Linked DNA regions of Homo sapiens: region 2 is reported to be linked to region 1. The links are microRNA targets in miRTarBase. Many come from high-throughput screens and were not tested one by one. Region 1 holds a microRNA gene; the other region holds the end of a gene's coding sequence.

What was found. The annotated mature microRNA hsa-miR-1197 reads UAGGACACAUGGUCUACUUCU and lies in region 1 at 941-961, shown strand. An mRNA with a match to its seed (bases 2 to 7 or 8) in the 3' UTR can be bound and repressed. Matches are read on the target gene's strand: a 7mer-m8 pairs with bases 2 to 8, a 7mer-A1 pairs with bases 2 to 7 and ends in A, and an 8mer does both.
Region 2: miRTarBase lists AJAP1 as a target of hsa-miR-1197. The part of its 3' UTR that is shown has no 7-base or 8-base seed match.

Annotation. Positions count from the first base shown.
Region 1 is chr14:101,024,680-101,028,477 of GRCh38, forward strand. It overlaps MIR1197 (microRNA 1197), which reads left to right and starts at 885; the gene lies at 885-972. LOC124903407 (mucin-2-like) reads left to right here. Exons shown (of 5, transcript XM_047432049.1): 5 at 1-3,798. It overlaps MIR380 (microRNA 380), which reads left to right and starts at 338; the gene lies at 338-398. MIR323A (microRNA 323a) reads left to right here and starts at 1,053; the gene lies at 1,053-1,138. It also overlaps MIR758, MIR329-1 and MIR329-2.
Region 2 is chr1:4,773,918-4,776,917 of GRCh38, reverse strand. AJAP1 (adherens junctions associated protein 1) reads right to left here. Exons shown (of 6, transcript NM_018836.4): 5 at 2,360-2,491. The coding sequence ends at 2,419. Among named protein-coding and RNA genes, the nearest start is that of AJAP1, 120 kb to the right of the region's middle.

The DNA.
Region 1 (3,798 bases):
GTTCTGGTACAAGTACTGCCTCGGGGTACTTAGTAGAAGTTGGCCATGCTTCATATGTTTTACTTACAACGCATGTTACTTCGTCCACCTTCCTATAACAGCGTGCACCTCGGGGGGCTTTCTGTAGGCAGGAACGAGTGTCAGTCATAGCACTAGTTCCAGCATCATCTCCATTCTTGAGGGGCTCCTTTGTGCTGCGTCCACTGCATCTGCGGCAGACATTGCATGGTGGCCTCTTCTCAATACTACATCAGGCCTCAGAGGGCTTCCTGGAGGTGATGCTAGTGAGAGGAAAGAGACACCGGCTCTGACCTCAGCCCTCTCCAAGGTACCTGAAAAGATGGTTGACCATAGAACATGCGCTATCTCTGTGTCGTATGTAATATGGTCCACATCTTCTCAATATCAAATTCAGTCATAGAGGGCTTCCCAGAGAGAGGCAAAGTCACCTTCGTGGGAGACACACTGATCTGGCTTCAGCGCCATTCCACAGTACTTGGAGAGATGGTAGAGCATAAAGCATATGCATTGTTGAATGACAGATGTAGCATGGTCCACTCATTCTCAGTATCAGCCAGCCCTGGGGCTTCCCGGAGGCCATGCCGACTTGAGAGCCAGGCCTGAGTGGTAGCCAGGGTGCAGTGCAGGTCACCGGGTGGTTGGCTGCAGACCCAGTCCTTTATTTATTACATTGGCCATTTGGTCCACCAGCCAAGAACTCAGTACCGGTCCCACCCTTACAGGGCATCCTGGAGGTGGTAGTGGCATTGGATGTGGGTTTGTGGTCATTGCCACATTGCCGGTGGCTGGTAGTTCATGATGCGCATTGTGAGGCTTTCTGGAGGTGATAGCAGGTGAAAGGAAGAGAGCCAGGGGTCAGCGTCACTTCCTGGTATTTGAAGATGCGGTTGACCATGGTGTGTACGCTTTATTTGTGACGTAGGACACATGGTCTACTTCTTCTCAATATCACATCTCGCCTTGGAAGACTTCCAGGAGGTGATATCAGCTTTGCGGAAGAGCCACTGTCCTGGTGTCAGTACGGCTGCTGCTTGGTACTTGGAGAGAGGTGGTCCGTGGCGCGTTCGCTTTATTTATGGCGCACATTACACGGTCGACCTCTTTGCAGTATCTAATCCCGCCTTGCAAGCTTTCCTGGAGCTAACATCAACTGCGGGGGTGGGGGCCACTAGGTCTGCGCTCAGTGTGACCCAGCGGGGTTTGTGATGTGTTTGTCTTGTGTGTGACGATAACTCACGTGTGGCAGCCTTCTTCTCAGCACACTGCTCTGGCTTGGCAGCAGGGTTAACTTGCGGACAAGGAGCGTGGTGTCAGCACGTGCCTGGATACATGAGATGGTTGACCAGAGAGCACACGCTTTATTTGTGCCGTTTGTGACCTGGTCCACTAACCCTCAGTATCTAATGCCCCCTTGGAGAACTTCCTGGAAGAGGTGTCAACTTTTTGGGAAAGAGACAGTAAACTGGGGCCAGCTGCACTCTGTTAGACTCTGAAGAGAGCATCTGCGAGGCGTTTGCGACATGTATGCCAAATGTGGCTGAGTTGGACTGATTTTCACTCCGATCTCTTTCCTTGGAGGGCTTCCTAGATGTGGAGGCATCCAAGTTCAAGGGAAGGGGCATGCTGTCTATACCATCCCAAAGTCCTCCAGTGATCAGCTGACCTGAGTGTATGCACTTTAATTTACAACCAAGGTCGCCTGGCCCGTCACACCTCAGTCTCCACTGGGTCCTTAGCAGGACCTTTGGTGGAGTCAGCCTTGCTTTGGGGCATCTGTGCCTCTCTTGAGTAACTGAGAAAAGATGGCCCTGGAGGTTAACCCTAAACGCGATAGCTGCTGTGACCAGCCTTTTTATGGCATCACCACCTCTGGCTGTGATGTCAACTTCCAGACGTGATGTGGGGTCTGCTCCACTGGGGTACTTGGATAGATGGTTGGCAAGCAGCATGCATCCAACTCTTGGCTTCTTCCGGCAAATCAACTAACTAACGCTCAGTGTGCAATTCCATATTTAACAGGACTTCCAGCACTGAATGTCAAGTCTGGGGAAGAATCAGTGGTGTTCTTGTCAGTGTTAATCAGTGGTACCTGAAGAGAGGTTTTCTGGGTTTCTGTTTCTTTAATGAGGACGAAACACACCTGGTTAACCTCTTTTCCAGTATCAAATCCCATCTTGGAGGCCTTCTGGTCCAGACCTCAGCTTCAGGGAAGGGCGTTACTCTCAGCTCCAGTCCACTGGACAGAAATCTATGGTTAACCACGAAGCCTGTGCTGTATTATTTTGACTGATGTCATCTGTTCTACTAACCCCAGTGTCCAATCCGTATTTAACAGGACTTCCAGGACTGAATGTCAAGTTTGGGGAAGGAATCAGTGGTGTTCTTGTCAGTGTTACTTGGTGGTACCTGAAGAGAGGTTTTCTGGGTTTCTGTTTCTTTATTGAGGACGAAACACACCTGGTTAACCTCTTTTCCAGTATCAAATCCCATCTTGGAGGCCTTCTGGTCCAGACCTCAGCTTCAGGGAAGGGGTGCTGTGGACATAAATAAGGAGACACGAGCAAATGGCTGATCACTAAGCGTGCCCCATGTTTCTGAATTTTGCCACCGATTGCGCTAACCCTCAATGTCTTATCCCTTCTTAGGAGGACTTTTCAATGTGATGGCAGCCTGGGGGAAGACAGTGTCACCACGACAGTGTCACGGAACATGCAGGTGAGTTGTCTGTGGTTGCCTTCGTTGTGCTCCCAACGGATCGTGTGTGTAATTCAGGCTCTTTCGGCATCTGACCCTGCTGTAGGGGGATGCCTCGTCCTTGCCACACTCAGTGATGGGCTTGAATGAGCCCAGCCCACAGCAGGGGAATGCCAGCATGCCCTGGACAGATAGTGCAGGTGTCCTGCACGCCTGCCCCTAGCCTGCAGTTTATTCTGAAAGGATGTCCTGGATATAATGACACCTTAGGGAAGAAAAGCTGATTCTGAGGTCAAGAGGAGACCTTGGGGGCCCTGGAATTGGCCCAGGTTGAGACCTGTTTATTTCTCACAGGAATTGTGGAGTTGACTTCCTTTAAATCTGGAGGAATCCTTGATGTCATGCCAGCTTGAAGGGAGGGCATTGTCACCAGCCCTGATCCAGGGGAAGGGAGTGGATGGCCCACCACGGGGCATGTACCTCCCCAGGAACACACCTGCTCCACTGACCAGCACATCTGACCTACCCTCAGGGTTGTGTTTCTGCAGATGGTCCTTCTTTGGGGTGCTCAAGGAGAGGTTTCCTTTGGCATATCTGTTTCTTTTATATAAATCATTTCTGTGGACCACTCTTCAGTATCAAACACCAGTTTGGAAGGCTTCCGGATAAGACAGTTGTCAGGCCCAGGCCAGGGTGAGTGGGCCGAGATGGGTGCTTCCCCTGTTCTAAGCGTCCTGTCTGGCAGTAATGCTTGGTGCCCGATCCTTTCCAGGAGGACTTCCTGGAGGTGATGCCAGCCTCTGGGGAAGGAAAAGGCTCCCTGCCAGCTCTAAAGCCAAGGCACAGAAGTAGGTTTTGCTGGTGCTGCATTTGTTTTGATGGCACTTAGCTGTGACTGTGGGTCCTCGGCTCATCTGTGGCATTTGGGGATGGGACTGTGAGGGAGGAGGGCCTCAGGTTCTGGAGAAGGGCCAGGTATTTCCATGTCAACCCTGCTTTTTATAACCAGAGAGAACATATGAGGTAGCACCAATGACCTCCGCCACCAATCCTTCCTATTAGCTGATACCCAAACACCGTTCC
Region 2 (3,000 bases), not on the chromosome of region 1:
GCGCAGCTGCCTTCAGTAAGCCTCACGGGCTCTTCTGAACTCTGCGGACGACCTACCTGAGAGCCACAGGGAGGGGGTCAGCTCTTTAGACACAGAGATGTTTCCTTGTGTAAATGCCGGTGGTCCTGAAACAGCTCCTCAGGCACAGTTGGGAAGTGGGGTCCACCTGGGGCCCATCTGGGGGCGCCCATGTCTCTTGCCTTTGCCTGGGGCTGCAGCACAGGGCTAGCCCACCAACAGTATTTCTGGGGGGTCTTCAGTGCCCCATGCTGCTGGAAGGGGAGGACCAGGCTGATGAGACACGAAGGTTTTCTGGGGCAGATGAGTAAATAAAACACTTTTTTTTGCCCTATTTTATCTTTTTATTTTTTTTAAAGTCAGTGCTGCGGGCTCCTGTTCTAATGGAAAAGAAGGATCCCTGGGCTCAGGCCTGTGGAGTAGGCAGGGGATGTCCCGGAGCCAGGCAGCCATCGGGTGATCCAGCCCCACCACTAACAACCTGGCTGACCTCGGCCAAGTCATTTAACCTCCCACTGCCTCAGTTTCCCCACTTGTAAAAGGAATTGCTGGGAGGACTGGGCAGGTAAAAAGTGTTCCATGAGCTGCCGTGCAAACATTAGAAAGCTGTCCCCTCTCCCCTAGGGAGCTGACCTCGGCCAAGTCATTTAACCTCCCACTGCCTCGGTTTCCCCACTTGTAAATGAGATTGCTGGGAGGACTGGGCAAGTAAAAAGTGTTCCACGAGCTGCCGTGCAAACATCCGTATTACGGGGCTGTCCCCCCGAGTTGACCTCTCCAGTTCTGTGGGTCTGTGGCTCTTGGCGGAAGGGAGTGAGGGTCTTCGACTCTAAGGCCTTGCATCTCCCAGGTCAATGAATTGTGCATTAACAAATTTTAAAAATCATAACAGAGATGCTGGCAACCATCAGGACCCAGTCCCTACAGAGGCTTTACCAGGCGGGTCGCGGACTACACTGCTAGCAAGCCAGCTCCCTGCGGCTAGCTTGGTTGGCACTCCAGTAGGGGCTCCCTTCATGAGGGGAGCTGCGGTGAGGCAGACAAAGGCACTGGCTTCTGATGGATGCTCTAGGCTGCACATCCCCCCACTGAATGGTGGGGGCAACCCGCCTCTTACCTGCTGCAGCAAAGGCCCTTGCAGGGCAGCTCGGTTCCCATATTCTAATCTAATTACGTTTCTTTGCCAGTTGGCAGAACATGTTGGCTTCGGGGTAGGGAGTGAGGGCTGGAGATTTGATTTGGAGCAAACATGCAGTTCATTAGTGCCAGGATGAGGAACTGACCGATTCACTCCCCTCTCTGACTGCAGCTGGTTCCCCGCCCCCAGCAAGGTGCAGCCAGCTGAGTCCTCCAGACCTTCCCTGTCCGCGGGCCCCTGAGGACTTTGTCCATTCTGTCCCTCATATCAGATGGTGGGCAAAAAGTAAGAAAAAAATATTTTCAAATATTGGTATTCTATCCTAGAAATACGGCTCCCTACTCATGGAAGGGATCTTAGGTCACCTTTGGAAGGAAGCAAGATGAGGATGCGTAGAAAGCCCAGCGTCGAAAAGAACCATGAAAACAACACGAAAACCTCAGGTCACACCCATGGGCTGTGCTTATAGAATGCATGGGATGTGCAGCCATGAGGGCGCAATGCTCTCTCCCCTCAGCAGCCCGAGTGCTCTGAAGACTCAGCACAGAAGGAGGCAATTTAACGTTAGCATTAAAGTTAATATCACTAAAAGCAAACCAAATGTTCCCATCCAGCAGAGCGTGGAAAATTCATCCTGTTTTGGTGCCGGTTCCTGGCTTCAAATTAGTAGATGTCTCAACTCTTCCCTTTCTTTCTTTATCATTTTCTTTCTTATCTCTTATTTTTATATTTCAAAATTGTATTTTAATTCTGCCTTGCGCCCTCCCCCGATGTAAAGACATGTGATGGAGGTGCGATTCCTGCCTCCCTAGCCGCTGTCCTAATCTCCTCCTGTTGTGGGAAATGAGAGCTGTAATTGTCGCTTGTTTTAGGGAATGACTTTCCCTGCCACGTAGGCCACGCATGTGGTGGCCTTCCTGAGGGAAGGAGTGGCACTGATAAGAATAGTGAGGACGTGGAATCAGGGTGCATGAATGTCTGTTACTATCCTCCCCTGGGACGGGGAGGGCACTTCTAACAAATCCAACATCAAGGTCAAAAGCCCAGCCCCCCCCGCCGGCTCATGTTCAGAGAAGTGATGCCATTGGAAATCCACCCGCCATGTCTAAAAGAGCTCCCAGTGATCCCAAAGAGTGCAGGGGAGGGCAGTGGGGAGGGGAGGAAAGGGAACGAAAACAGGAATGTCCAAAGAGAGGTACCTACCGTGAAACAGACACACGGCGTCTGCCCTGCCCCCAGGAGGTAAAAAAGACTTCGGCCAGTCAGCAGGAGATTTCAAACCATTTCTCAGACACGAAGGCCACAGGAATAAGATGCCGATCAGAAGAGGAGGGTCTGCGGTGAACAGAAAAATGGGCTTTGGCGTGCTGGTACTTGACCATGACACATGATAGGCAAGCCGGGGCAGGCCTGTGGTGGGGACTGGCTTCTTGAGAAAGGAAGCACTAATGTGGACTCCTGGCCTTGCCAGGAAGGGACCACCCCCCACATTCCCTGTGGCTGGGAGAAGTCCTCACACACGAATGCTTTCTACCCTGGGAGGCTTTGGAAGACACAGACTGAGGGATCTGGGCACACGAGCACTTTGCTGCACAGGCCGGAAGGCTGTGCCGTCTCCACATTTTCGTTTTTGAATTTGCAGGATTAGCCCAGAGCCTGGGGTCTCTGCCTCTGATGGCAGATTTGACCCACTTTATTGCACATGACAGAAAGGATAGAACCTGGCTCCCAAAATGTCTCGCCCATATTTTGTCACCTTTGAGACTAAGCTACCATTTCCCAAGGCCAATGAAACCCAACAGAGCATGACCTTGGGCCAAAAGGCAAGAACTAGTTCCATCCAA